6 separate regions of the Homo sapiens genome follow, and all the other regions are linked to region 2. Evidence: fine-mapped expression QTL. A gene starts in region 2. Each other region holds a variant in brackets. All regions are shown on one strand. Distances are between the middles of the regions.

Region 1 (4,995 bases), 190 kb before region 2:
GTTTTCTAGCTATGTGACCCTGGACACACTTTTAACTTCTCAGTTTTTCTCATCTATAATGAAAGGTATTATAATAATAGCACTTTTCCTCATAAGGTTGTTGAGAGGATTAAATTGATGCAAATGCTTATTCCATTCTTGGCACCTAGCAAGTTCCCTTTACTTTTTGCTATTAGTATATTAATACAAATAGTGTGAAACCACGTCTCCCTCATTCACCTTTGGAGTAATTCAGAATCTCCTTGGAGCCATTTATCTGCAATGGCAACGCCTGTGTGAGGCACTGTATGTCTTGAGGTTGCTCAAAGTGTCATTGTGAGCACAGTTCCTGGGCAGATCTCCGGAACTCACCAGAAAGAACCTTCAGTAGCATCCCTCATGCAACATCCTGCAAAATTCTGTGCTTCCATGTCAGCCCCACACTGAGGTAGGACCACGTGAAGAAGTGGAGAAGTGGAGACAGCGCCTGGCAAGGCCTTGCAGGGAGGGTCATGGTTCACACAAACAGCAGAAGGATGAAGAAGGACAGCAACAGCAGGGGAGGAGCTGAGCTCCTGCTGAAGGACCAGAGCTTGGGCTCTCTGGGCTTACTTCACTGTCTTCTGATCACTATTCGTGTCAGATTTCGCGTGGAGACCCCTTTTTCAGCCCACACAGAATATGATTCACAGTTAACCCACCGTGCAGTCTAACTTCAATCCTGGCACAACCTTCTAAAATTATGCAATTAAAGACTCCACTAGAATGAAGTGTCTGAGAATGCTATTTAACCAAGTGGATCAAAAGGGACATTTTAAAAAGCGGAGAGAAAGGGTGAAACAATAAACCTGGGAAGAAAAAGAAAATCGAAACCAACAACCTCCATCTTCCCGCTTCCTGCTGTCTCATTTCTAGGTGGCTTTTTGTCTAGTCTTATTTGTCTTATTTATATGCTAATCTCCCCGGGGAAGAAGGGTGTCACCTCGATTTCAGGGCTGCTCCTACACTGGGAGCAATTCTTTGGAGGTGAAACATAGCGATAACAATCTCATTGTACTTGGCTATACCTTAAGGGTCTTCTTCGCCTCCTGATACTTTACCCATTCATGAAACACTGTTTTGAACATTGTTTTGTGTTATTAATTTGAAGATTTTAATTTTTTCAGCTATCTCATTAGGTGGCAGGTATTATTTATTTAAACAATCCTGAGTGCCTACCACGGGCCAGGCACAGTTCTAGAAACTTGGGTACCTCAGGGAACAAAACAGATGAAGATGCGTGTTCTTATGTGCCTACGTCTTAGTGGCAGACACAGGCAATATGATAAGCATGACAAACAAGTACATTGCACAGCGTGCGGATGGTAGGCGCTGTGGCAAAGAGAACAAGCAGAGGGGAATTGGGAGTGCCGTTTGGAGGGGTGGCTGCTTGATTTTCCCCATTTGCCAATGGGAGGCTACATTAGGGGAAAGCATTCCCTCCCTTTCCCTAATTTCCCCCAGTCTCTGCTCTGAGTTTTGTTTCGCAGTCTCTGACCCTTTTCTATATCCCTTTTAAAATGGGAACAGTATTAAATGCAGTTAAGCACTCTGGCTCTGAAGCCAAAGGGTCTGAGGTTGATTCCTAGATCGGTGGCTTGCTTCTCTGTGTGACCTTGGGCAAGCTGACTTGTCTCTGCTTTGATTTCCTCATCTATAAAATTTGCCTACATAACAGGGTTGTAGAGAGGATGTTTCATGTTACTATGAGGTTCCTAGACCAGGGTCCGGCACAGGGTAAGCACTCAGATGTGGGCTTAAAAGAAGAAAGTGATGTCCCTGTGTTGTGGGGTAGGGAGGGTCATGAGTAGGAGCATATTTACAACACCCATTTCTATCCCTAAACGCCCCCAAAACTAGTTACATGGGGCTCCCTCATTCAAGGCCTGAGGTCACTTCAAAAATGAATAAGAATGGCACCTCCCATATCCCTTGGTTTATTTCCAAGAACCAATCTTCCTTTTTCCTAGTTTTTTTAAAAAACAAATTCTTGCATTATTGTTTCACTTTAACTTAGGTTTAATCACACCAAAAAAAGGTGGACGGCATTTGCTTTGTTGTGCAGCTACCTGAGACGTGACTTTGACCTATTTTTAGGTCACGATGGTCACGTTCCGCTGTTGTTTGACCTGTGCTTCGTTACCATTAAAACCCACACCCTGTACCCCACTTTCATAAAATAAAACAGGTAGCAAAACTTAAACAAAATATTAAAGAGGGATGAAATAGGCCAAACCATTTTAGGTTGGAGAAAATACTCATGATTTTGCCTATTTCTGGAGATTTCTACAAATCTAGTCTCCTCTAAAGCAGAGAATGCAATGTACTGAAGGCAAAATTCAAAGGC[G/A]GAATAAACAAAAACCCTGCCAAACAAACTCAATGTATCTAGGCAACATCCCCAGAGTACCTTATTTCCTGAGTGTTGAGTCTCAAGGACCTCTCCCATAGTAAATTATTAGCTTAGTGCAAGGTCTAAGATCTAGATAAAAGAGAAAGAAAAGGAACGTTATTTTAAGTTGAAAGTCAAACACATTTAGTGCATCTCTGTGATATGGAAATTAAGTCTATCCTTCAACACAGTGACAAGAACAAGGAGTTGGACAAACAAACCATAGAAGCAATGATTGCCTTTGTTGCACTCCAGTTCTCATGCAGGTGCCTCCTTAACCCTGTCTAAAGTGCAGGAGGGTCTCCTTTGTCAAGGGAGGATCAAGGAGCTCTACATTTTCAGACCAGCTTGGGTAGCTTCCGGTCAGTCTTGCTTAAGGCTTTGCACTGATCTTGTACCCCACTGACCAACAACTGGATCCCTACTTTGATTTCTAACTTGGGACTCCAGTTCCCCTGGTACTGACTTAGATGGCTCACTCTCTAACCCTGCTGGGTGTTCCTGTCTGGTGTCTTCATAGAGAGTCTTGAGGGAGGCCTTTCGGGTGCAGCCTGCCTGGGTCTAAACTTGTGCCACTCTCCCTGACTCTCCAGCACTGCTCTGTCCACCTGTCTGGATGTCCTCCTACCTGGACCTCTCCAGCCCACAGTCTGCCATCTTGGACCACCACTGGTCACACAAATCCCCAGATAACACACTCCATCTGTGTCTCAGCCTTGCCCGCTCTGGCTGATCCCACTGTTCACCAAGTTTCCATCCTGAGCTGAGAACTGGAGGCAGCTATAGAAGGGAGGAAGAAATTGGGCTATATGTGTTAGACGTTCCATTCTGATCTACAATTTCAGTGCTTCTTCCTCATGAGGCACTGTCCTGAGGATTAAATGAGTAAATGCATCTAGATGATACCTTAGCTGAAATCTGAAGTATGAGACTGACTTACCCCGACATGGTGGAGGGGTGGAAGTATTCCAGGCAGAGGGATCAGCCAAGTAAAACCCAGACATCAGTGTCCACGCTGTCCAAAGGCCCCTGGATGGCTCTGCTGGACCAAGGAAACTATCTATTGCTGTGGACACCATGTCCTGGACCTCACTGTCTTCTCAGAAGGGTCCCAGCGCAGCAGGCTGCTCAGCCATGTTTCACTTCACTCCTTTCCCAGCAAAACCTAGACATTCTTGATTAGACTGTGTAAGGTGCTAATTAAAATCACTTAAGTGAACCACTTCCCATTTACTCTTAATTTTCAAGCACCACCATAATGATGCACCATTGAATATGTGTCAGATCAGGTTGGCACTAAATTTTAATATACTGTGACATTGAGCTCCATTTATGTACCTTCTCCTCAGTGAGCTGTTCACATAACAATACGGTATTTTGCAACACTGTGAGCATTGATTAAACACCGTGAGTTCTGTATTTTGCTACTTCATTATCTTGTCTGTCTACTTACAAATTTTAGGCACTTTTTTATGTAATTGAAGATCCCATAAAATGTGGACTGATACTTCTATAATCCACATGTCTAATCTATATGCTTATCTGTCTTTTTCTTCAGGAGCACTTTAATTGATTTGTACTATATATCATATTGTTTTTTCATATGCACATATTTTAGAATTTAGCAAAGGGCGGAGGAATGTCCAGCAGGAGAAAGTTGAAAGTATTTTATTTTTTTGAGACAGAATCTTGCTCTGTCACCCAGGTTGGAGTACAGTGGCGTAATCATGGCTCACTGCAGCCTTGATTTCGTGGGCTCAGGTGATTCTCCTACCTCAGTCTCCTGAGTATCTGGGACTACAGGTGTCTGCCACCATGCCCAGCTAATTTTTTGTATTTTTTTGTAGAGATGGGGTTTCACCATGTTACTTAGGCTGGTCTTAAACTTCTGGGCTCAAGCAATCCACCTGCCTGGGCCTCACAAAATACTGTGATTACAGTTGTGAGCCACTGTGCCTGGCTGAAAGTATTTGATTGTTTTCTTTTCTGTCTTTTCTTTTTTTTGAGATGGAGTTTCGCTGTTTTTGTCCAGGCTAGAGTGCAATGGTGCAATCTCAGCTCACTGCAACCTCTGCCTTCCTGGTTCAAGTGATTCTCCTGCCTCAGCCTCCCGAGTAGCTGGGATTACAGGCACAAGCCACCACACCTGGCTAATTTTGTATTTTTAGTAGAGATGGGGTTTCACCATGTTGGCCAGGCTGGTCTTGAACTCCCAACCTCAGGTGATCTACCCACCTTGGCCTCCCAAAGTGCTGGGATTACAGGTGTGAGCCACCGCACCCGGCCTATTTGATTATTTTCTAACCAATTTAGCTCACAAATCTAGTAGCCCTTTCACCATTCTCTCTAAGGATTAATAAACAAAAGGTTGCTTTACATTTCCAAACTTGTTTCATTGCCTTTCCTCTCCATGCTCTAGCCCCTAGTGTATATTTGTGCTACTGCTGATAAAAGCTCATTTCTGAGTTAATTCACACAGGGGTCCAACGGTTTTTATTGTTGACAATATACAGGATGGAACCCTTTGATCAGCCATCTTTTAGGCTAAATTAATTTTATTAACCTTGGAATATGTGGAATTGGTATTC
Region 2 (4,995 bases):
AGCATAGTGACTACTGCACAATTAAAAAAAAAAAAACCTACTCAAAGACTCTACAATGTCATACTAAGACTTCCAACTCTTAGGCCAGGCAAGGTGGCTCACTCATGTAATCCCAGCACTTTGGGAGGCTGAGGCAGAAGGATCACTTGAGGCCAGGAGTTCAAGACTAGCCTGGCCAACATGGTGAAACCTGGTCTCTATTAAAAATGCAGAAGTTAGGCATGTGTGGTGTAAAAATACAAAAGTTACGTAGGTGTGGCGATGCGTGCCTGTAATCCCAGGTACGTTAGAGGCTGAAACACAAGAATCGCTTGAACCTGGAAGGCAGAGGCTGCAGTGAGCTGAGATTGCACCACTGCACTCAAGCCTGGGCAACAGAGTGAGACTGTATCTCAAAACAAACAAACAAACAAACAAACAAACAAACAATAAAACAACTTCTCTTTAAGAAAAAAAAAAAGATGGCCAGGCACGGTGGCTCACGCCTGTAATCCCAGCGATCTGGGAGGCCGAGGCAGGCAGATCGCCCGAGGTCGGGAGTTCCAGACCAGCCTGGCCAACATGGTGAAACCCCGTCTCTACTAAAAATACAAAAATTAGCCGGGCCTGGTGGCAGGTGCCTGTAATCCGAGCTACTCGGTAGGCTGAGGCAGGAGAATTGCTTGAACCTGAGAGGAGGTTGCAGTGAGCCGAGATCATGCCATTGCACTCCAGACTGGGCAACAGAATTGAGACTCCATCTCAAAAAATAAAGAAAGAAATAAAAAATTAAAAAAAAAATTCCAACTCTTGGAAAATTCCCTTTAAAGAGTTACGAATTAAGCTGGTTTATTTATGTAATAAACGCTTCGCACAGTTCTTACAATGTGCCTGCCAACCTTATTTAGGTAGGTACAATTAAGACTTCCACTTTACACACCAGAAAATAAGGCACAGAGTCGACACAGCCACTGAGTGTCAGAGCAAGAATTGGCACTCATCCCGTGAGCGCCTCAGTTCTTTTTTTTTCTTTATATATACTTTAAGTTCTAGGGCACATGTGCACAACTGTGGCACATATACACCACGGAATACTATGCAGCCATAAAAAAGGATGAGTTCATGTCCTTTGTACGGACATGGATGAAGCTGGAAACCATCATTCTCAGCAAACTATCGCAAGGGCAGAGCGCCTCAGTTCTTAAACCACTCTTCTATGCTGCGGCAGAATCACTGGAAGTCTCAGGGAGTCCTGAGTGCGCAATTCTAGGAAAAGTATCTATATCTGTAAGAAAGAAGGGGCAGGGAATCTAACGGTTCTCAGCTCTTGAAGGCACATTAGATTCATTCAAGGTCCTCTCTAAAAATACACTTTCTTGGGCCTCCACGAGAAAAATTCTATTCAATTAGTCGTGGGCTTGCATCCGTATTTTTAGTCTGTAAAAGTGGAATGTTATCTCAAATCAGTGGTTTTCAAACTTTTTATATTCTGCGGACCTTGACACGGGCCCCCAATACCCTGACACGGTTACTTACAATCCGGGAGAGAGTGGGAGAAAGGGGGAGAGAGGGAAGGGGAGAGGGGGAGGGGAGAGAGAGAGAATGAATGAGAATGAATCTTTTAGAGAGGTAGAGGGGGTTGGCCCGTGCCACAAACCACCTCTCAGGTTTGAGTGAAGCCTTCGTTCTCTCTCGTGCAGAGACCATGCCATCCTTCCAGAAAGGAGCATTTTAGGACGTTTTAGGACGAGAGACCTGTAATTGGCCTAAGACTCAGGTGCAGGTGGAGGAAGCATCGGATTTACAACAGTGGTCCTGCCTTCTTCGATGTGACTTCCAGTTTTAAATTCAATTCTAATTTACACAAATCCCACCCACTATGTAAACTTGTTGGAAAATGTCCTGCACTCTGCACTTCGTGGCATTTAAAACTTCCACACACGCGCGCGTTCTTTCTCGAAGCCCCGTGATTGCTTAGCCTCGCTGGGCAGCTTGGCACTGCTGGGAGCTTGGCTCGCCCTGCCGGGGCCGACGCCGCCCGTCCCGCAGGAGCCCGCGCGGGGCTCAGGGCACTCAGGACTCCGCATGCGTCCCGGCTCCAGGTGGGCCCCGGCACCGCCAACCGCAGGAAACCCGCCGAGCCCTAAACGTCTCCCAAGCGGCTGCAGTCTGCGACAGAGAGTGTCCCTCGGTGGAGCGCCCTGTGGCTGCCCAGGCTACAGCCGTGGCCGAGGCGAGGACACACTTCTGACCTGGGGCTCCAGCAAAGACTGTCCGCGAGCGGCGACTCCATGCCCGCAGCCCTCCGCCCAGCTCAGCCGCCCGGCCGCGGGCACCAGCAGCCGCGCCACGAAAGGGCGCACCGCGCGGGCGCCGTCTCTCCTAGGTGCGAAGGCGGCTGAGGCCCCGCCCGGGAGGCACCCGCGCGGCTCCGGAGTGGGCCGGAGGGACGTCCGGGGGCGGGGCCCGGGCGCGCCCGCCCTCTGACCGGGCTATAACACCCGGCCCCGCCGGGCGGCCGCGGGTGGGTAGAGGTGCGCGCCTGGGACCTGGTGAGGCTGGGGGTGCGCGGGGCCGGGCGCAGCTGTGGCAGCTGCCGGACGGCGGAGGCGCCAGGAGGAGGAGGAGAGGGAGGCGCGGGCGGCTGGGTCGAGGGCACCGAGGCTGCCCGTGCTCCCGGTCTCTGGTTGCACGGCTCACTCCCGAAGGTGTTGCTTCCAGCTTTTGCCTCCTTAGGAGGCAGGGAGCGTCAGTGTCGGGAGACCCTGAGACCGGAGTACCGAGACGTAGCTGGTGATGCCCCCGCCTGCCCTCATGTGTTCTCAGGTTCTTCTTATTTTTATTCATCTCTAGAACATGGACTTCCCGTGCCTCTGGCTAGGGCTGTTGCTGCCTTTGGTAGCTGCGCTGGATTTCAACTACCACCGCCAGGAAGGGATGGAAGCGTTTTTGAAGACTGTTGCCCAAAACTACAGTTCTGTCACTCACTTACACAGTATTGGGAAATCTGTGAAAGGTAGGGTCCGTCTCGTGAACACTTTGCCAAACCCTCAGTCCTCCCTTTCAGTATTCATTAAATATGCCCCAGCTTCCTGTCTGCTCTTCCACGCACCTACTCTGAGTGGCACAGAACAAGTCAACCGGTACCGTGCGTGTTGGTTGTTTTCTGCTTTTGTTGGGAGGAATAGTAGGAAGAACTGAATTTTACTGGACTTGTCCATTGTAATTCAGTGTCACTGAGTCCTTTCCATTATTGGAGTTCTTCTGTCTTTTTGGATCTTGCAGACATTGGTTATTTGGGATGTATGTTTTAGTTCCTTTTCAAGATAAACTCCCAAGTAAGTCCGTTTATCCGTTTCAGTTCCCCTTTGTGTGGGCTTCTTTATATATGACTTGGACTGTTAATGTCATTTCTTCATGTCTCTTTTAAACTGAAATAATGCAGTTTTGTTGGTAAGATTTCTGTGTCATCTGTAGTTAGCCTTTTATTTAAAGTTATGCAAAACTATCATTTCTGCAAGTTTCTTTTAATCTAAGTAGTACAGTTCTGTTGGTTAGATTTGTGTCGTGTATAATTAGCCCTATGGCTTAAAGTTATGCAAAAAAGTGGTTCTATGATTAAAGGCTGTTTTTAAAATGTATCCATTTGAAGAAGACAATGCTAGATAATGAATATATATTAGTAGTGATTGAAACTCTTCCCAGCATTTTCATATTTATCATTAATAATTTATTGTTCTAAGTTAGAAACTACATAAAGTTATTTTCATTTTTATAGACAGCAAGTTTGAATCAGATAAATTAAATAATTTGTTCAAGGTCTCCCAGATGGTGAATTTTATAGCCAGGACTGGCACCCATCCGGCCAAGGCAAATAATTTGATCAGATATCGTTATTTCATCTTTCTTTCTTTCTTTCTTTCTTTCTTTTTTTTTTTTTTTTTTTTTTGGTCAGAGTCTCGCTCTGTTGCCCAGGCTGGAGTGCAGTGGCGTGATCTCGGCTCACTGCAACCTCCGGCTTCCTGAGTTCAAGCAATTCTCCTGCCTCAGTCTCCCGAGTAGCTGGGATTACAGGAATGCGCCACCACAGCTGGCTAATTTTTTTGTATTTTTAGTAGAGATGGGGTTTCACCATATTGGCCAGGCTGGTCTCAAACTCCTGACCTTGTGATCCTCCTGCTTCGGCCTCCCAAAGTGCTAGGATTACAGGTATGAGCCACCGTGCCCGGCCGAGATACCATTATTACTTAATCATCTTTTATTATCCTGATGTTCCCAAAGAGGTTACCAGAAAACTTAGTCCTTAAATCAAAAGTTTCATAAATTTTATGCAATTTGGATCTCAACTTTTTGTAAGGTGTGTTCAAACTCTACCTTGATTTTAGCTCTGAACTTTTGAGTCAATTGAGAGTCTCATAATTACCATATTCTTCATCATTTTTCAAAAAAATCAAGGCTATGGCTTCTATATTAAAGAAAAAGTATTATATAAATGTATTTATGTGCAATGCGAAGTCAATATCCTGGGCTGTGTGTAATAGTAACTTTGTTTTTAAACAGCATTGCCAAAGAGATGGTGCCAGAATTACTCTATATTGCTCTATAATCCAAAATTATAGAGGTTGGGTGTGTGAGAAATCATATCTTGAATCAGCATACGTATTCAGCCTTCTGAAATCATTTTTCCCTAGGGCTAGAGTAGAGCAATTTAAAAAGATCTAGGAATACTAATTATATTAATTAAAAATATATAGAACACAACTAGCTTGAGTTATTGTTCAGTCATCATTTCAACCACAAGATGATGAGGATGTTGTTAATTTTAAGTACTAAGTGATTTGGTAAGGTTTTGTATTTTCAAACACAATGTGCTTGTGACAGTTGGGGGCTCTCTTTCCTAATATGAATCAGCAGTTGTGATCTATCCTGCATGATATCAAACCACAATCACAGTGAAAGTCAGCAGGCTTAATTTTGTTTTTAATTTTACCTTGTATGCACTCTTGCGGTTAAAGG
Region 3 (4,995 bases), 200 kb before region 2:
GCGTGATCTTGGCTCACTGCAATCTCTGCCTCCTGGGTTCAAGCGATTCTCCTGCCTCAGCCTCCCAAGAAGCTGGGATTACAAGCATGCACCACCATGCCCGGCTAATTTTGTATTTTTAGTAGAGATGGGGTTTCACCATATTGGCCAGGCTGGTCTTGAACTCCTGACCTCAGGTGATCTGCCTGCCTCAGCCTCCCAAAGTGCTGGGATTACAGGCGTGAGCCACCATGCCCAGCCTAGTCATTCATTTTGACTCTTGGCATATGAAATGGTTTCCCACAAGTCTATTTAGACTATAACACGGGACTAGGCATGGTGGCTCACGCCTGTAATCCTAGCACTTCAGGAGGCTGAGGCAGGAGGATTGCTTGAGCCCAGGAGTATGAGACCAGCCTGGGCAACAAAGCAAGACCCCATCTCTGCAAAAAATTTAAAAATCAGCCAGGTATGGTGGTGCATGCCTATAGTCCCAGCTACTTGGGAGGCTGAGGTGGAAGGCTTGCTTGAACCCAAGAGGTTGAGGCTGTAGTGAAACATAATCACGTCACTGTACACCAGCCTAGGCAAGAGAGTGAGACCCTTTCTAAAAAAAAAATAGTATATAAAATGAATTATGAAAATGATTCTAGCAGAAGCACAGGAGGATTTAAATAATTCTGAGTTATAGCATCCAGTGCAGGTGGTGACTTACTCACCTGCTGGTACTGTAAATCTCAGCTACAGAGAATGACATGAGGCTCTTGTCAGGTGTGTTTTATCCCTGGGCTGATGAATGGACTGAGCAGTAACGGTTAAAGAAATTATCTCACCCTTTTCTTCAGCAGCACATGGTGGTTGAGTGCAAAGCTGGATATGAAGCAGGAGGGATTTTAGTCAAAGAGAAGAAATTATGAAATTCTATTCAATCTTATGGATTTTATCCAAGGTTGAGCCTGGATGATGCCTTTGTCTTAGACAGTTATTTTATAAGTCCTTTTGGAACTGGATATCAATTAGTCAACACTTTTCACTGTCTTCGATTTATGTTCCTACTAATGAAGAAGAATAAAGTAATGTTTGATTTCCACGAGGAAGGATGAGAAATGGATATCAATACAGTAGGAGCTGACAAGCTATCTCTGATAGAAGCAAATAGGTCTATTTCTGGGCTTATGATATCTCTGCTTTGGTGGCCTGGAGGCTTCAGAACAAGTTCACGCGGTTGATGACATTGACACAAGGCAGTTAGTGGGCTGTCTAGTTCAAAGGGGGCAAGGTGGAACTTTTATTTTCTTTTTCAGAAGTTTCAGAGTCTCCCTCAAGGTTGAAATGTTTGGGGATTTTATTTTGGTAAAATCGTTGTGGTCTAATTTCTTTATGTTGTATTAAGCCCTCCTCTAACTTAATGTGCTTAAGGATCACCTGGGGATCTTGTTAAAATGCAGTTTTTAATTGAGTATGTCTAGGGTGGGGCCTGACATTCTGCATTGCTAATAAGCTCCCTGCTGATGTGGATGCTGCTGCCCTGCAGACCACAGATTGAGTAGCAAGGCTATAGAGCTTTTGTTTAAACCATGTGTCAGTCAGGGTTATTTAGAGAAACAGAACCAGTAGGATAAAGATAGATGGATATTTTAAGGAATTGGCTCATGTGATTGTAGGGGTTGGCAAGTTCAAAGTCTCTAGGACAGGCTGGAAACTCAGGCAGGAGTTAATGTTGCAGTCTTTTTTTTTTTTCTTTTTTTGAGACCGAGTCTTGCTCTGTTGCCAGGCTGGAGTGCAGTGGCACGATCTTGGCTCACTGCAACCTCCGCCTCCCGGGTTCAAGCAAGTAGCCTCCCGAGTAGCTGGGACTACAGGCACGTGCCACCATGCCCAGCTAATTTTTGTATTTTTAGTAGAGACGGGTTTTCACCATGTTGGCCAGGATAGTCTCAATCTCTTGACCTCATGATCTGTCCGCCTTGGCCTCCCAAAGTGCTGGGATTACAGGCGTGAGCCACGGCGCCTAGCCAATGTTGCAGCCTTAAGACAATTTCTTCCTCTCTGGAAATCAGTTTTTGCTCATAAGGCCTTTCAACTGATTGGATGATACTAAAATACCCACATTTTGAAGAATAATCTCCTTTACTAAAATCTACTAGTTGTGACTTTTAAAAATAATGATCTTTTTTTAATTTTTTTAGAGACAGGGGTCTCACTACATTACCCAGGCTGGGCTGAAACTCCTGGGCTCAGGCGATCCTCCTGCCTCAGCTTCCTGAGTAGCTGGGACTACAGGCATGTCACCATGCCAGCTGCTGTACATGTTAATCACATGTACAAAATATCCTCCCAGCAACACCTAGATTAGTGTTTGATTAAATAACTAGGTATTATTGCCTAGCCAAATTGATACATAAAACTAACCATTACAGCATGGATCTCTTTTTTAAAATGAGTTTCCATTAATGCCTAATAAGCAAAATAGATAAAAGCATAACTGCTCTGCTTAAGTTAGGAGTGGGGATCTGGAGTCTGGCCCTCATTTTCCTGCCTTTCCCCAGGGG[G/C]AGCTCTAAGGAAGACTGTTTCAAAATCATTGCCTTGTATTTCTTCACCTATAACATGCAGATAAGTAGTAGCACCTGACTCAAGATTAAATTAGATCATTTGAGTAAAACCATGTAGTACAATTCCTGGTACATTTGTAGGTATTTTATACACATTACTTGCTTCTAGCTTTACTGTTGTTATCAATCGGAACTATTACTGAAAAATAGGCTTTTCTCAAAGAAAAAAATACAAAGTATTTCAGTATAAGGCCTGATGCTTCACTGAGAGCTCCCAGGATATATTACTGCCTCTACTTTTGTTGCTTACCTGGTGGGCGAGTGGACTGGCTTCATTAACCTCAGCCCCAGTTGAGCTTCTGAATGGAAGATGTCTCTGGGCCCAATGGAAGATGTCTCTACGGGCTGAGCATTGGCCCAGCATTGGGACAAGCAATTAGAGTTGCAGGAGAGAAGGTCAAAGGTTACTGCTGTGTTCTCTTTACTGGCTCGGATGACCACATTTTAACCTTTCAGGTCTCTTGACCAAGAAATAACTGTGGTTTGTCTCATCTGGTAGCTGGAGAAAGTGAGCACTAGGCTTTCCTTAACTTCAGCGGCAAAGAAATAGCATGGCCACAACCTAAACATTTTTTGTTACATGAAAAAAGGGCAGTTTTCTTCAACAGTTTCCTCAGAAATTACAATTTGGAAAGCAAAAGAAGTTGCCTTCTATTGTCCTCATTTTGCTTACAAATAATTAATAAAAGAGGGAACACAAATGTGTTGACAAAAGAAACAGAAAAAGATCTTAAGCCTATATGAGGTCTTAAGTCCTTGAGTTTAAAACATAATGTGGAACTACAAGGAATTTTCCCTCCAAAAACGCTTACTAAAGTTAAGAGATTTTGTTTCAACTGTGTATTTTATAAAATCATCCTGGAACTTGGAAATGAAGTTGTATGCTTTTTGCTCATTTCAGTAACACACATGCAGATAGTGTATATTCTTTGATGACAGTTGGTATTTATGATGCATAGAGAGAACAGCCTCCAGCTCACTGCACAACAGCAATATTGACTCTGCAGGAAGAAAAGCAGTGAAAAACTCAGCTCTGTTAGAAAAGTGAGAAAGTATAACTCAAAGACCCTAGGAATAGTTGCTTTGATTATTGTTTCCTGATGACAGCCTTATTTTACAAAAAGTGCTTAAGAAAGTTTCCATTCACTGTAACAGTCATTTCTCATCTATAATTAATATTCATTATTGCTATAGTTAAGACCGATAAAACCATGAGCAGCATGGAGGCAGGACAGAGTGTGAATTAGGAGTGGTTATGCCAATGCTTTGGTTTTACATAGACTTGAGTTCACATTCAAACTCCAATTAGTTACTGAATGACATTGGGCAAGTTACTGAACTTTTTTTTTTTTTTTTTGAGATGGAGTCTTGCTCTGTTGCCAGGCTAGAGTACAGTGGTGTGATCTCTGCTCACTGCATCCTCTGCTTCCTGGGTTCAAGTGATTCTCCTGCCTCAGCCTCCTGAGTAGCTAGGACTACAGGCACGCACCACCACGCCCAGCTAATTTTTGTATTTTTAGTACAGAAGGGGTTTCACCATGTTGGCCAAGATGCTGTCGATCTCTTGACCTCGTGATCCACCCACTTCAGCCTCCCAAAGTGCTGGGATTACAGGCTTGAGCCACAGTGCCCATCCCTGAACCTCTTTAAGGCTTAGTTTCCTTGTATATAATATGTAATAATACTTTGGAGGGTTGTTTTAACAATCAAATAAAATAAAGCATGTTCAATAAATACTATAAGGTGCTGCTATTGGGTCAGGAAAAGAGCTATGTGGCAATGCCAGGCCCTCCCAGCAGTCATCAGGTTATAATGGCCCATAGGATACCACAAAAGGTGCTAAGAGATTAAATGAACCACATGCAATCCTGTTTAAATTGTGCTAGTGGTAGATTAGGATAAATCCTTCGGTAGCTGTGATACTATAGGCAAATTAACCTCTTTAAGCTACAGTCTTCTGGTGTAAAACTGTCCTGGTGCCTACCACATAGGGTTTCTTCCTTAATAAACTTTTAATTTCAGAGTAATTTTTGATTTACAGAAAAGTTGCAAAGATAGTAGAGAGTTTTACCACTTACCCCTTACCCAGTTTTCTCTATGTTAACATCTCACATTAATGTGGTACATTTGCCAAAACTAAGAAACTGACATTGGTGCAGTGGCTCATGCCTGGAATCCCAGCACTTTGGGAGGCTGAGGTGGGTGGATTACCTGAGGTCGGGAGTTCGAGACCAGCATGGCCAACACGGTGACACCCTGTCTCTACTAAAAATACAAAACTAGCCGGGTATGGTGGCCCATGCCTGTAATCCCAGCTACTTGGGAGACTGAGGCAGAAGAATCGCTTGAACCCAAGAGGCAGAGGTTGCAGTGAGCCGAGATCACACCACTACACTCCAGCCTG
Region 4 (4,995 bases), 74 kb before region 2:
GATTCAGACCCTAGGAACCTGGAATACAAGCTTCCTTTGGACTTTGTTAATAAGCAGGTTTTTAAAGGCAAAAAAAAAAAAAAAAAAAAAGGAACAGGGAGTAAGCTGATACAAAGTTATTTATCAGGAATTCTCATTAGTTTACAGAAATAACATTGATTAGTGATAGGCTATACATTGTTCAGCTATAGGGTATGGGTTGTATTGTCTGATGCAACATTATTAGGTTAATTTATAGATACTTGTAGCAATAGCAAGCAATTTCAAGAGATGAATATGTAGCTCAAAGGAGGCGATAGAATGTGATTGCTGTTTGATTTTAATGTCTCTCTGGGCTTGGTAATTTAAAAGGATTTGGATTCCTCAGATAAAAGTTCTTCTCGCCTCTTCTCTTCTCTTAGCTGCTGCTGCTTCTTATTCTTCTTCTTCTTCCTCTTCTTCTTCTTCTCCTTCTGCTTCTTTATCTTCTTCTTTCCTCTCTCTTTCTCTCTCTCTTTTTCTCTCTCTCTCATTTCTTTGTTTTGTTTTGAAACAGGGTCTTGCTCTGCTGAAATGCAGTGGCATGATTATAGCCCACTGCAGCCTCCAACTCCTGGGCTCAAGCCATCCTCCCACCTCAGCCTCCAGAGTAGCCGGGACTACCACTGTACACCACTACACTCAGCTAATTTTTATTTTTATTTTTGTAGAGACAAGGTCTTCCTCTGTGTTTCCCAGGCTGGTCCCAGATTCCCAGGTTCAAGCAATCTTCCTGCCACGATCTCCCAAAATGCTAGGATTACTGGAGTAAGCCTCCATGCCCAGCCTCTTTTCTCACTTCTCAAGCCTTGGAATTAGACTGGACACCACCACCCTCATTTCCTGTTTCATGTTTCTGCACGTAGTGCCACAGGATAGGCACAGTAGACCCAGCTTCACAAGTAATATGACATAATCAAAAGAAATGTTGAAATGTTGCACAATCTAATGGTGACGCTGTCAACTACCGTGAGCTAATAGTTTGTGTGGTACCTGAATGGGTGTCAGGTATCACTGTGCTTTCCTTACAATTCTAAAATATCCAGTGGCACCCCAGGGCACCTTGGTACACAGCCTGGAAACCATGGGCTTGGAAGGCACTTCATCCATTTCATATTAGTACCTGTTTTCTCTAAAAATAAAAAACCACTTTATATTTTCCTACTGGACATAGTCCCTCTATTAATGAAGCATCCTCCATGAGAAAAATACAAAAAGGCCATTAAAAGTTCAATGAAAGTTATGAAAAAAAGAAAAAAAAATGAACTCAGGAAGTCTTCGAAAATGAGACAAGGCACCATGATCTTACTAAATCATCCAACATATGTCAAAATGTGTAATAAAACACATTTTTCCTTTGAATGCTAGCCAACTTCTGTTGTTTGCTTTGATTGACAGCTTGGATAGACTGGAACAGCAGGGAGCTGGTGAAACTACACTCCCAGGACAAAACAGGTTTCTACATTTTGTTTTGTTTTGTTTTGTTTTGTTTTGAATTCTTTGAAAACCAAGGAAGAAAGGAGAGGGAGCAGGACAAAGAGAAGAAGGCAAGAAGAGATCATCGCTGTCCTCACTTACACAGCTATTTTTTCCATTCAATTATACATTCGGCAAATATTTATATTCTCTTGCCTAGAGGCAATCATATTTGCATCAAATACTTGAATGCAGGATGTTAAAGAAACAACAGGCTGGTCAGAGTCCGGGCTACAAAGGCTTACAAGATCCTTAGGCTTGCACTAAGCACCTTTCCTCTGCTGCCTTCTGCCCCCGCTTTGGTGAGGTGACATTGTCCAGGCCTGCTCAATTCTTTCCTTTGTTGCACCCTAAGCACCTTCGCACCCCAATCTCTAGGTCCAGCAGGACCAGAACAAGGGAAAACAAAGCCTCACCGCAGGACAGTGTAGTTCAGGGCATGCAGAGCTCTTAAATCTTCAGTCATTCAGAAAG[AAGG/G]GACTGTTGCTCTTCACCCAGGAAGAATCTTAATTATCCAAATGCATAGGGGCCCTCATGGGTGGTTCCTTAAAATCTATGTGAGTCATACAATCAAAAAAAAGAAAAAGCAGATCCTGAAATCCGTGAGTAATAGAGCACAGTTTCAGAAGCAGGGGTACATTTTTTTTGCATTTGCTTCCAGATTTCTGAACTTAGGTTTCACTCTATAGAAATCTGAGCTGGTGGTAAAAGGAGTAAAAATGAATGTGTTATGAGCCCCTTGGTTCATAATGGGCATTTTCTTGTTGCCTCGCCACGGAACAAGGAGCAGCAGTAAGATCTTGTTCTCATCTCACAAAGCAGCTGCGCTGACACTTCAAGCAGCTGGCTCTAATGTCAGCAACTGACGTTTACCGTTGATCATTTCACCAGCTAAGTTAAACACACCAGGCTTGCTCATAAGTGCTGGCCATGAAGAAAGTGCTCGGAAGGCAAACAGCCAGTGAAAAATCCAGCCCCTCAGCACACACAGGAGAAAGTTTCCCTTTTTATAAACTATCTAAAAAGGGGAAAAGGGAGAGGCATCATACTTTAAATTATGAATTAGCTATTTCATGCTGCAGCCAAAGCACTTCTCTGTTGGAGTGAGCATATCCCTGTAATGGCTTTTTAAAGGATGTTTGCAAAGTTAAAAGTCTACAATATGAAAGATTTAACTCATTTGCACCATCATTAAGGAATGAATTACAGTCATGACATTTAAGAGTTGACTGTGTTGTTGTTATATGACAAAGAAACATCCTTTGAGCATTTCCCCAGAGCCTAGGCAGGATCTGAATTTCAGGAACCAACAAGGACCAAGTAAGTGCAATTACTGAAGGTATATAAAATCAAAACACCTGCCCCAAAACTTTGGTTTGACTTTAGGAGCTGTAAATTTCCAAAGCCAAACTGAAAAAAAGAATTGCTAGCCCCAACCACATCATTAAATGAGCCTAGCAATGAGGCACTTGGAGGAATCACAACCGTAAACCAAAAGTATCTGCGACAGATCTCAAAGAACTTAGAGATTTTTTTGGCTAAGGTTAAGGATGCACCCATGATACAGCCTCCTGTGACCTCCTGACGCAGGAGGTCCTGATGTGCCCAAGGTGGTTGAGCCACAACTTGGTTTTATACATTTTAGGGAGACATAAGGCAAGACATCAATCATCCCATGTAAAATGTACATTCATTCAGTCTAGAAAGGTGGGACAACTGGAAGCACCTGGAGATGGGGTGGCTGCTTCCAGGTCATAGGAGGATTTAAAGATTTTCTGGGCAATTAGTTGAAAGAGTAATTATCAATAGAAAGGACGGAAGGAATGTCTGGGTTATGATAAGGGGTTGTGGACACCAAAGATTTATCATGCAGATGAAGCCTCCAGGTAGCAGGCTTCAGAGAGCTTGTAAATGTTTCTTATCAGACTTAAAGAGTCTGTTCTGTCAGTAATTCCAAAAAGGAAGAGGGTATAATGAGGCATGTCTGGCTCCCACTTTCCATAATGGCCTGAACTTGTTTTTTCAGGTTAACTTTGGGATGCCCTTGCCGAGAGGAGGAGTCCATTCAGAGGGTTGGAGGGCTTAGAATTTTATTTTTGGGTTACACAACTCTACCATGGGAGAAAATTTGGAGGTGGACCTCAGACATCCAATGGAATCTAGTTTAGACCTGGGTAAGAAAGATAGTTTAGGAACAAGGAAAATGGAAAAATATAGGTTCCATGGCTTCAAATTCCACCAAAGAAGAGAAACAAGAAAGGAATACATAGAACATTTATAATCTAAACCATACAGAACTCTGATAGTGTCTGAAACGTTGTGGAGGAAGTCAGGAACCCCAGGTGTTTCTTTCAGGGCCAAATAGATCGTGACCCTGAGCAACTGCCCAGCTACAGACTGGGAAAGAAAGGGATGAGTGGAATCCTTGGATCTGGGGTCTCAAGTGCAGATTCTGCTAACAATAGCAATGATAGCAACGTGCAAATTTTTTCCTCCCTTATGGCCTTTGGGCTTGCTCTTCCTTCTACCTATAACCTCCCTGATCCTCATGTGCTGGCTAACTCTCCCCATTCACAACCCTGCCCGTGTCATAAGACTTTCCCACCCATCAGTCACTCTCGGCCACATCACTCTGCTCAAATTCCTTCACAACTCTTACTACCACCTGAATTTACCGTATTTATTATCCGTGTATTTGTTAATGGTCTGTCTCCCTAGTGGGGTAAGTGTTTAACAACTGGCTGTGGGAGAAAAGGAATGTTAGTAAATATATGTAGCACACAACTTCCAAGTAATAATCAACTATACAATACCCTTTATTGTAAATTCCATGTGGTCAGTTGAATCTCACTGAATGCCTTTGTTGATTTTTGCCAAACTCTTGTGTCTGTGACTGCAACTGTGGCTGCCGTTCAACCATGATTTGACAAATGGAGCTGCATCCCTATCTGCTAACTCTTTTCTCCATAAAAGTATTGCCATTTGATCTGATGTCATCTGCTGTTAAACTATTTCCCACCCTTGTACGAATTCTAGTCCCTAAATTGAAACCTCTTTCAGCTTCAGCCATGTTGTTTTCAACAATGCTAGCTATCATTTTTGTATAGTTGTAAGGACTGGAACAGTGTTTAATAAGAGCTTGCAAAATTTTTGAAAATATAACAATCTGCTTTCATGGGTCAACATGAGCCCTGTGCCTCTCCAGCTTGGATGGTAGTAAGTTTTATGAGAGGACAAAGGGCACCTGGCACATATCAAATATATACTGACTCTTACTTCATAAAAAACATACTAACATCAGTTGGGTGTGGTGTTTCACGCCTGTAATCCCAGCACTTTGGGAGGCCGAGGCAGGCAGATCACTTGAGGTCAGGAGTTCCAAATCAGCCTGGCCAACATGGTGAAACCCCATCTCTACTAAAAATACAAAAATTAGCTGGGCGTGCTGGCGTGCACTTGTAATCCCAGCTACAGGGAGGCTGAGGCAGGAGAATCACTTGA
Region 5 (4,995 bases), 77 kb after region 2:
CCTTTTTTCATCGATGCAAGTAAAATTTCAGTCTTTAATTCCATAAAATATATATTTCTGAGTCATTTTATCCGAAGACAGGAAGGCATGGACTAATTTGAGCCTGAGTGGATTTATGTGAAAGAACTAAATGAATAAGTATTGATATAGTTGGCCAGATTTTGCCTCTTTCTCTTTGATGTGAATTTCTCTGAGAAATTCAGGATTCTTCTATTTTGCTTAGTGGGGCTTATGCCAACCATAGCAGTCATTCTATATAGAGCTAATCCTGGGAGAAGGTAGTCATCTCTTCTGTAGTGAAAACTGAGTTGGTATTTTATTATTTCATCTTGAGGACATCATGGAAAAAACATGGTTTTTAGTTTATAAAACTATAGAATTCAGAGCCTCCATGCTCCATGGGTTCTCCCCAAGGTGCCTAGATGTGAGGCTTATCAATTGCTAATCCTTTTAGGAATTTCTACTCCTGCCGAGAAAATGGATAGAGCTTGAAAAATCTCAACTCACTGTGAATCTTTGTCTAAAAAGGCCCTTTATTTTCCTCCTATTTACTGTGATATTTCTATTCTATTTAAAAATATGATTTTCCCTGTAGTGAATCTAAACTTATATGCAACCTCATAAATAAGCCACACCTTTAGAATAAAGTTATGAATTGTTCATTTCCCATTAGTTAGACTAACACAGTACACATTGACCCTAGATATTAGTTCTAGGATAATATTTGAAGGTAAGACTCTGGACATTGAAATGAATGTGTAAAATACATACCAATGAGTGGTTATGTAAATGTCATTCCCCATTTTTTCCCTTCTCCACCATATATAATAAAAGCATTTCTCAGTAGACATTGCCTGTAGTTAGTTTAGCATTTGTCTTGTCCTGATCATTTCCTCCACTAAAAAAAAAAAGAAAGCCTAACCAAAGATTCAGGCTGATATGAACAAAACCAGGTAAAATCAAAGCTTTTAAAGGAGGGTGGATGTGGTGGCTCATGACTGTAATCTCAGCACTTTGGGAGGCTGAGAGGCAGGTGGATCACTTGAGGTCAGGAGTTCAAGACCAGCCTGGCCAATGTGGTGAAACCCTGTCTCTACTAAAAATACAAAAAATTACCTGGGCATGGTGGTATGCACCTGTAATCCCAGCTACTTGGGAGGCTGAGGTAGGAGAATCGCTTGAACCCGGGAGGCGGAGGTTGCAATGAGCCAAGATTGAGCCACTGTACTCCAGGCTGGGTGACAGAGCAAGACTCTATCTCAAAAAAAAAAAAAGAAAAAAGAAAAGAAAGAAAGAAAAGCTTTTAAAAGAAGCAATAGGCTTGTAGGTCAGCTGAAAAGAAATTAGTAAGTTGAGAAAATAATTCTACTTGAAAATAATCTTGATATCCAAGGAGGATGTTAAATACACACTTGGGACAAAGGGAAAGAGTTATCTCTTTACCCTTCTGCCCCACGAAAAGGATGGTGGCAGAAACATCTGCTGCTTCCTTCTCTTGACTTACATTGCCAGATGAGGTACCCATCTGTCCTTATTTCATTTTGTAATTCTTGGCAACAGCATTCACAACGCTGGTCTCTGTCAACAGGCATTGGATAACTCAGCCTGCAGGACCAAATCTGTTGCTGGCCCAGAGGTCTGGTAGATTGTTACATGCATTGCACAAAGGCTGCATTTTAGTGATGGATATCAGTGTTTTCAGTGTGGGCACCACGAACCATCTTAAGTCACTCATATAATTGTCTCTTGTTTCTTCTCAGGTTACAGTCCCTGGACATGATCCACACATCACAAAGGTGATTATTCCGGAGAAATCCCAGAACTTCAGTGCTCTTAAAAAGGATATTCTACTTCCATTCCAAGGGCAATTGGATTCTATCCCAGTATCAAATCCTTCATGCCCAATGATTCCTCTATACAGAAATTTGCCAGACCACTCAGCTGCAACAAAGCCTAGTTTGTTCTTATTTTTAGTGAGTCTTTTGCACATATTCTTCAAATAAAGTAAAATGTGAAACTCAACCCACATCACCACCTGGAATCAGGGATTGCTCACTCCAGGTTACTGCAACCCTAACTCACTCTAGTGGGACCTTGACTGGAGAAACTCCACGATCTTCCTGAAGAAGAGAAATGGATGTTTCCAAATTCCACAATAAGCAATATGTGGTGATAATGAAAAGAATGATTCAGTCTTGACGGTGAATGGAAGACACTTACCTAACAAGTACTGCTCATTTACACTCAAATTAATCTTGAAGTAGTCTTAAAATGTGTAAGAAGTTAAAACTTGAGAAGCAAAAAAATGCCTGCAAAAAGAAGATCATTTTGTATACAGAGAACCGGATGAATATAAGCAATGAAGATGAACATTTATTGATCTTCTACATACAAGACTTCACCATAAGGCCAGGAGCAGTGGCTCACACCTTGTAATCCCAGCACTTTGG[G/A]AGGCCAAGGTGGGCGGATCACCCTGAGGTTAGGAGTTCAAAACCAGCCTGACCAACATGGTGAAACCCTGTCTCTACTAAATATTAGCGGGGTGTGGTGGCGGGCACCTGTAATCGCAGCCTTTCAGGAGGCTGAGACAGGAGAATCGCTTGAACCCTAGAGGCGGAGTTTGCAGTGAGCCGAGATAGTGCCATTGTACTCCAGCTTGGGCAACAGAGTAAGACTCTGTCTCAAAAAAAAAAAAACAAAAACAAACAAACAAAAAAAACACCTCACCATGAGTGCTACATGTGAATAGATATTAAGTGCCATATATAATTAGTTCTCAGAAGAAGGGAGAAATGATCATAGGACTGGGAATTGTTTTGCAAACGTTCTAGGAGATGTGAGAGAAAATATGTAACCACATCTTAGTGGCCCAAGAAAATACAGGCCTGAAGGGATAAGATTGTGTCTCTATAGAGCTTCAAAGCATACAGGTCAATTAAGAAAGCCCCTCTCTCTCCAGAGCCGTTTCCCTAGCTTTTGGCACCTGGATGCCACAGTCCTCCATTAGGCTGATGACTCCAAAGATGTAACTCTAGCCTCTTGCCTGAGCTTCAGACTCGCGTCCCACTGCCCACAGGACACATCCACCTGGATGTGACTCACAGGTACCTCCAACCCATCATGTGGAGATACTCATCCTGTTCCCCCTAGAGCTGCTCTTCCTGCTGCATTCTCTCTCTCAATTACTGGGACCACCAAGCTAGGAACCTGGGAGTCATCCTTGATACTTTCTCTTCCTCCTTAATCCTGTGTATTCAGCAAGTAACTAAAGGTTGGTGTTGGCCAGGCATGGTGGCTCATGCCTGTAATCCCAGCATTTTGGGAGGCCAAGGCGGGCGGATCACTTGAGGTCAGGAGCTCAAGACCAGCCTGGCCAACATGGTGAAACCCCATCTCTACTAAAAAAAAAAAAAAAATTAGTCGGGCGTGGTGGTGCATGCCTGTAATCCCAGCTACTGGGGAGGCTGAGGCAGGAGAATCGCTTGAACCTGGGAGGCAGAGGTTGCAGTGAGCCGGGATTGCGCCATTGTACTCCAGCCTGGGTGAAGAAGTGAGACTCTGTCTTAAAAAAAAAAATTGGTGCTGATAAATATTGATGAATTCTGCTCTCTGCTCTCTATGGTTGTCAACACTGCAGAGTTGAGGCCTCATATCTCACCTGCACTGCTGCAACAGCTTACTGGTCCCTTGCTCCCAGCCTTCTCCTCTTCAGTCCATCGTCCACACAGCACTGGGGAAGGGGAGCCACTTGAAACAAAAGTCAACAACTGGTTGTAGTTCATAAACACAGAGCTGTTTGTGTCCCCTGTATCTGGAATGCCATTATGACCCACTACATTTTTTCTTTCCTACCCCTCTTAAAACTCAGTTCAGGTAGCAGCTCCACTAGGAAGCCTTGGCTGACCATAATCCCATTCAATTCCATTTCACCTCTTCGCAGGCAGTCTGGGGTTAGGGACCCTTTCTCTTTGCTCCCCAAAATAAACTGGTTATCTCTACTATTGGATTTACAACATTGTATTATAATCTTCTCCATGTGTGCCTTCTCTAGTAGAATGTGAGCTCTTTGAGGCCAAGGTCTATTTAATTTGTTTGAAAAATTCATTGTTATATCCTCAAAGCCTAGCACATAGTAGGTACTGAATGAATGAATGAACAAGGGGTGCCAGGAGACTGCTACTCCCAGTCCTTCCCAGAAACTGCCTAGGGCTTTGAGTCATTTTATGAAGCTAGGTCTTAATGCGTAGGCAACCTCCCAGCTCACTATGAACGCTGACAGAAGAGTGTTTTCATGTCTATAATCAAGAATTCCAGATACATTCCTTTTACTGAACCTTGAATTGATCCTAAGATTGGTAGTAAAGGTATTATGTTACCTCCTAACAGCACTACAAAGTACCTTTTTTTATCAGAAAAAAATTTTACCATTAGGACTCAATTTGAAGTACTAATGCTTCTCAAGTTCTCCACTATGAGAGTTACCCTGTATTAGACCGTTACCTATAAGAATTAAGGGGTAAAGCACTAAACAGAAAAGAAAAAAAAAATAGCAACTCTGGTGAGCAGATTTCTTTCCTTTCTTCCTTCCTTCTCCTCTTCCTACCTTCCTCCCTCCTTTCCCTCTCCTCCCCTTCTCTCCCTTTCCCTCCCCTTCCCTTCCTTTTCTTCTTTCCTCCGCTCCCCTCCCCTTCCCTCCCCTTCCCATCCTTCTTTCTCTTTTTTTTACTTAATCCCCAGTGTGACAGTAATATAGGCTGATTTCTAGAAGTGTGGTGTATTACTCATGGAAAGTGAGTTGCCTTGGTTATTACTTTCAATTGAAAGTTCTATGGGATCTAGAAATGAGACATACTGGCATGGAGAGTGAGAACGACAAAGGAATGAAGAGCTACAGGAGCATTTAGGCCATTTCTATGCCAAGCTTATTCTACATGCACAAAATCATACATGTTAATAAATATAAACAAATTGGAGGCTTATTTAAACCAATTATGA
Region 6 (4,995 bases), 25 kb before region 2:
TAAATGTTTCCATCCTGAGCCAAAGAATGAATCACTTGTGCATTCATATGTTATAGAAAATGTGATTCCTTTTTTCCAGTTTTACAAGGCCAACACCTATCAGCAACACAAATTCTGACTTTTACTGACTTAGACTAGGTCTCAAAAGCCATAAAAAGGCCGTTCATGGAAATGAACAAAGAATGTATTTGTATCTTTATCTGAGAAGTCATGCCAGAATCCCTTTCAAATCAGCAGGGTAACATTTGGTTTTACATTTGTATGTTTTAGTGAGTTTTATAAACCCTGAAGCTAACCGATTTTTCTTGTAAAGTAGAGAAGTAAACTGATTTTGGGAGAGACGCCTGGGGATATAGCAGAGCTGAAATGTTTGTGCCTTGTTTATTAAACATGATCATCCTCACCAGAAATTACCATAGCATCAGGTTTCCCAGAAGGTTCTGAGGGCCAGAGTTTGTGCTTCACTTCTTCCTTATTCCTAAGGCAACTAACACGATGCTAGCATGTGAGAAGCACCCAGCAAACCCTCTCTTCACCCTCTCTCCAATTTTGGCCTCTCGTGGGAAAACCCCCTCCTTGCCCATGATGTTTCACCCACATCTGTCTTGACTGGGCAATGCCCCCATGCAGCCAACTTTTCATATTCTCTCTTTCACACTTTCATTATAATGTATTTGTCCTTGGTCCAACTGCCTTTGATTTCTAAGATAAAAATGATTTGAAAACTAACTCAGTCTTAAGTTTTGAAGAATTAACAGCGTAGTACAAGACCTCTGTTCTCCTTTAGGTAATTTTTTTTTTTACAATAACAATGATATTTTAAGGCAGTGGCCACTGGAATTAATCTAAAAGTTGAAATGTCTTATTAGGCAATGGGGATTTTGAAACACTTCTGAGTCTCATCATTTAGGTTGCAGTCTATGGAGAGGACTGGCTCTTTCTAAAAGATATTCATTCATTCATTTAATCATCAAACATATCCTGAAGACTTACTCTGTGCCAGGGACTGCTGTGGGTGCTGGGATGCAACACTGAACGGGATGACCAGGACCCTATTCTCATGGCATTCACATTCTGAGGTGGCAGGAATGTATAAATAAGGAGAAAATATGTAATAATAGTAAATGGTATGACGAAGATAAGACAGAGATGTGCAAGGAAATGACAGCTGGGGTGCAGGAACTGGGGGCTACATCTAAGTGGTCAAAGGTCTCTCAAAGAGGATGGCATTGAAGTTGAAACCCGAATAAGAAGGAACCAGACATGGGACGACTTAGGAGAAGAATGTGTCTGGCACAGGGCAGAGCTTGTGCAAAGGCCCTTGGGTGAGAGGCAGATCTGTGTGTTCAGGGCACGTGTGGCTATAACATAGTGTTACCAAGGGATGAGAGGCAGGCGGGGATAGTTCATATAGCGTCTCAGAGGCCAGGAAGGAAGAGGCTTTGGGTTTGATTCTGAGTGTGACTAGAAGCCCCTGGAGTGAAAAGAACATGTTCTGATTATGTTTTAAAACACCCCTCTGGCATTTGAGCTATAACTAGACTACAGGTGCCAGAGAGGAAGCAGGGAGGGGATTAGGAGAGAAACGATGGTATCTCGGACCAAGATGGCAGCAGTGGAGGTGTCACAAACAGCATTAGGAGGTATCTTGGTGATGGAGTTAACAGAACTTCCTGATGTATTGCATTGGTTGGGGTGGGTGGAGAGTCAAAGACTCCTGGGGTTTTGGTTTGAGTAACAGTGTAAGGTGGTTTCATTTCCTGCGACAGAAAAGCTGGGGGTGGAGGGGACTGAGTGGAAGGGGTTTGAGGGGAAAATTAAAAAAGGCATTTAAAAATCCCCTTTTTAAGTCAGGAAACAACAGAAGCTGGAGAGGATGTGAAGAAATAGGAATGCTTTTATACTGTTGGTGGGAGTGTAAATTAGTTCAACCATTGTGAAAGACAGTGTGGCAATTCCTCAAGGATCTAGAACTAGAAGTACCATTTGACCCAGCCATCCCATTACTGGGTATATATCCAAAGGATTATAAATCATGCTACTATAAAGACACATGCACACATATGTTTATTGCGGCACTATTCACAATAGCAAAGACTTGGAACCAACCCAAATGTCCATCAATAATAGACTGGATTAAGAAAATGTGGCACATGTATACCATGGAATACTTTGCAGCCATAAAAAAGGATGAGTTTTTGTCCTTTGCAGGGACATGGATGAAGCTGGAAACTATCATTCTCAGCAAACTATCACAAGGACAGAAAACCAAACACCACATGTTCTCACTCATAGGTGGGAACTGAACAATGAGAACACTTGGACACAGGGCGGGGAACATCACACACTGGGGCCTGTCAGGGGGTGGGTGGCTGGGGGAGGGACAGCATTAGGAGAAATACCTAATGTAAATGATGAGTTGATGGGTGCAGCAAACCAACATGGCACATATATACCTATGTAACAAACCTGCACATTGTGCACATGTACCCTAGAACTTAAAGTATAATAATAATAATAATAATCCCCTTTTTAGTATCTAACATCCAATTAAAAGAGGAGTCATGGCTCAATCCTCAAGAAAGAAACATGATTATATGGAGT[C/A]TTTGCCTTATGTGGACACAGTATGCATTTTGGAAGGAAAAGTCAGTCTTCTGGGAAAGTGTGGAAAATCCAAATTGGACAGAACTCATTGAAAAAGGCAAGATTTCAGTCACTGGAGCTGTATTTCTCAACTGCATTTTGGAAACTTTTGCCAGCACATTCTTAAGACAGGGAGCTCAGAAGGGAATTTGAATCATGGAGATGCTACTAAAGGAACAGTATGGTGCCCCCTTAGCTGAATAAAGAATCACCAGAGAGCTGTGTCCATGACCACTTTTTTTTTTTTTTTCTGAGAATCACTGCTTGGTCACAGCACATCACAGACACCATTTCTGGAATACAGGTTTGAGGATACCATGTCAGCAGCTTCAAGAAGAGACCTTCTTGCCAGGACACAAAATGATGCTCTCCTCTGGGAACCTGCTTTGAATAGTGGGATTCAAGGACATGAGACCTTCTTGCTGGATTTTTATGATACAATCTCTACGATTTTACAAATAAAGGAATAAAACCCAGATAAGATGATGTCTACCCTTCCTCGGGGTGGTCTGCTGATTGTCTGGTGATGGCGTCAGGGCAGCCAAAGACAGGATAAAGGCCGAGGAGGGTGTTTGTGCCCTTATGTTATTAGCACCATTGTTCATAGGACTTGTGAGAGGATTCTGGAACCAATAAAGGGGTAGAAACAGTACCTGATTCATAGGTGAACTGGAACAAACAGGAATTTACCAGACCTGTGTTGAAGCTAAGCCATATTTATCGCAATGTTTAAGATTCTCAGAAATCACATTTTATGTCTATCCATAAGTAAAATGGAACTGCCATTAATAGAGCTTTTACAACGTAACATGTGAACTGTGATTTGGTGCTCTGAAAAAACACGGAAGAGTGGGAAGGAAGGTTCTAACCTTGGCTCCTGATAACTTGTTCTATGTGTGGAGCAAATCATTAACCTGTCTGTTTTTTACTGGGCAAATGGGGATAATCAAGCACAGGTCCTTCGGCCAATGGGTTGTGATGATTAAACAAGGTAATTTTGTGCAAGGAGTCCAGGTTTTGGAGTCAGACAGACCTAGGTTTGAATCCAAGTGCTGGTGATGGCAGCAGTGGCCTGTGTGGAGTGGCTGCTGCCATGATGCCAGCTGTAGTGGGGGAGGCGTGGCTGGGGCAGCAGGCTCCATGGAGCCAGTGGGAGCCGGGAACAGACCCTTCCAAGTTGGCGGGATGGGATCCCTGCCCTCCTGGGTGCAGCTGCAGCTGCCCAGCCCTGGCTACAGACCCTGGCATCCCTGCACTCTTGGGGCCCAGGAATTCCCCCTGCCCCTGCAGACTCAGAGGTGACTGCTCCCACTGTCTAACCTCTCCCTGCTCCTGGCACCTGCTCCGATTTTGGAGCAAACTGTGGCCAAACCTGGGTGCTGACATGACTTGGCCAAGTGTGCATGCTCTGAGGCACTGACATGCCAGCACCCTGCCACCTAGGACCCCTCCACACTTTGGGCACTGACGAGCATGGAAAGCAGTGTAGGCCTGCAGGAGCCCCTTAGCAGGAACAGCCTGGGCACTGTGGGTGCCGTGGAGGGCAGGTTGATGGTGGCAGGAGGCAGACAGGCTCCTGGGTGGAAAGGGGCAGGTACTCAGTGAAGCCCCACCTCCAAGCTGGGGACGGCCTGAAGCCTGGGGGCTCGGCTTTCAGTTCTGCAGACTGGAATGAGAACTTATGGTGCTTTTTCTTGGACACCCATGGCCACCCATGGACCAATCCATACACACTTTCTCCCCTCTAAAGCCTGTATAAACCCCAGACTCAGCCAGACTCAGGCAGACATGGGATGACCTGCCTGAGGATAGGAGCTACCTGCTCTGGGTCTCCTCTCAGCTGAGGGCTGCACAGACCTCAGGACAACCTGTCTGCGGATAGGAGCTACCCACTTTGGGCCTCCTCAAGAACTGTTCTGCTGCTCAGTGAAGCTCCTCTCTCCCTTGCTCATCCTCCAGTTGTTTGAGTACCTCATTCTTTCTGGATGCAGCACAAGAACTCAGGACCCACCAAGTGGCAGGACTAAAAGAGGTATAAATTAAACAGGGCTGAAACATGCCCCCCCCACCCCCACACACACTCACCATGTTGTAAGCAACAAGAAGAAGAGAAGAGCTGCGGCCCTTTGGGGAGCACAGACCTGGGGGCTCCTGAACCCAGGGCTGTGACACCCACGGTTCTGTGGTCCTGGCATTTCTAAGCTTCCATTGACTGGACTTCTACTACGCACCAGGCAGCATGCTGAGTACTTTGTTTTACAAATTTTTTTAAATGAGCTTCGTAAAGATTTAAAATTATATCCACAATCACTAAGCGAGTAGGTGTCAGTGTCCTGGGATCCTTAGGGGTGT

What was found. PIP is the estimated chance that this variant, and not a neighbour inherited with it, causes the effect.
Region 1: its variant is fine-mapped to the expression of CPM in lung (GTEx, PIP 0.97).
Region 3: its variant is fine-mapped to the expression of CPM in lung (TOPMed, PIP above 0.99).
Region 4: its variant is fine-mapped to the expression of CPM in whole blood (TOPMed, PIP 0.98).
Region 5: its variant is fine-mapped to the expression of CPM in whole blood (TOPMed, PIP above 0.99).
Region 6: its variant is fine-mapped to the expression of CPM in whole blood (TOPMed, PIP above 0.99).

What each region holds. Positions count from the first base shown.
Region 1 is chr12:69,121,561-69,126,555 of GRCh38, reverse strand. No RefSeq gene overlaps it. Among named protein-coding and RNA genes, the nearest start is that of CPSF6, 120 kb to the left of the region's middle. The variant G/A (reference allele first, on the strand shown) is at 2,366.
Region 2 is chr12:68,930,678-68,935,672 of GRCh38, reverse strand. It overlaps CPM (carboxypeptidase M), which reads left to right and starts at 2,502. Exons shown (of 9, transcript NM_198320.5): 1 at 2,502-2,531; 2 at 2,833-2,995. The coding sequence starts at 2,836. RefSeq lists silencers at 2,123-2,232, 2,263-2,622.
Region 3 is chr12:69,127,782-69,132,776 of GRCh38, reverse strand. No RefSeq gene overlaps it. Among named protein-coding and RNA genes, the nearest start is that of CPSF6, 110 kb to the left of the region's middle. The variant G/C (reference allele first, on the strand shown) is at 2,532.
Region 4 is chr12:69,004,652-69,009,646 of GRCh38, reverse strand. It overlaps TODL (transcript overexpressed in dedifferentiated liposarcoma), which reads right to left and starts at 1,988. Exons shown (of 3, transcript XR_001749099.2): 1 at 1,911-1,988. RefSeq lists an enhancer at 1,511-2,204. The variant AAGG/G (reference allele first, on the strand shown) is at 1,969.
Region 5 is chr12:68,853,445-68,858,439 of GRCh38, reverse strand. CPM (carboxypeptidase M) reads left to right here. Exons shown (of 9, transcript NM_198320.5): 9 at 1,761-4,995. The coding sequence ends at 2,003. Among named protein-coding and RNA genes, the nearest start is that of MDM2, 48 kb to the right of the region's middle. The variant G/A (reference allele first, on the strand shown) is at 2,451.
Region 6 is chr12:68,955,220-68,960,214 of GRCh38, reverse strand. It overlaps a transcript of CPM not described here and the pseudogene PRELID2P1. Among named protein-coding and RNA genes, the nearest start is that of CPM, 25 kb to the right of the region's middle. The variant C/A (reference allele first, on the strand shown) is at 2,605.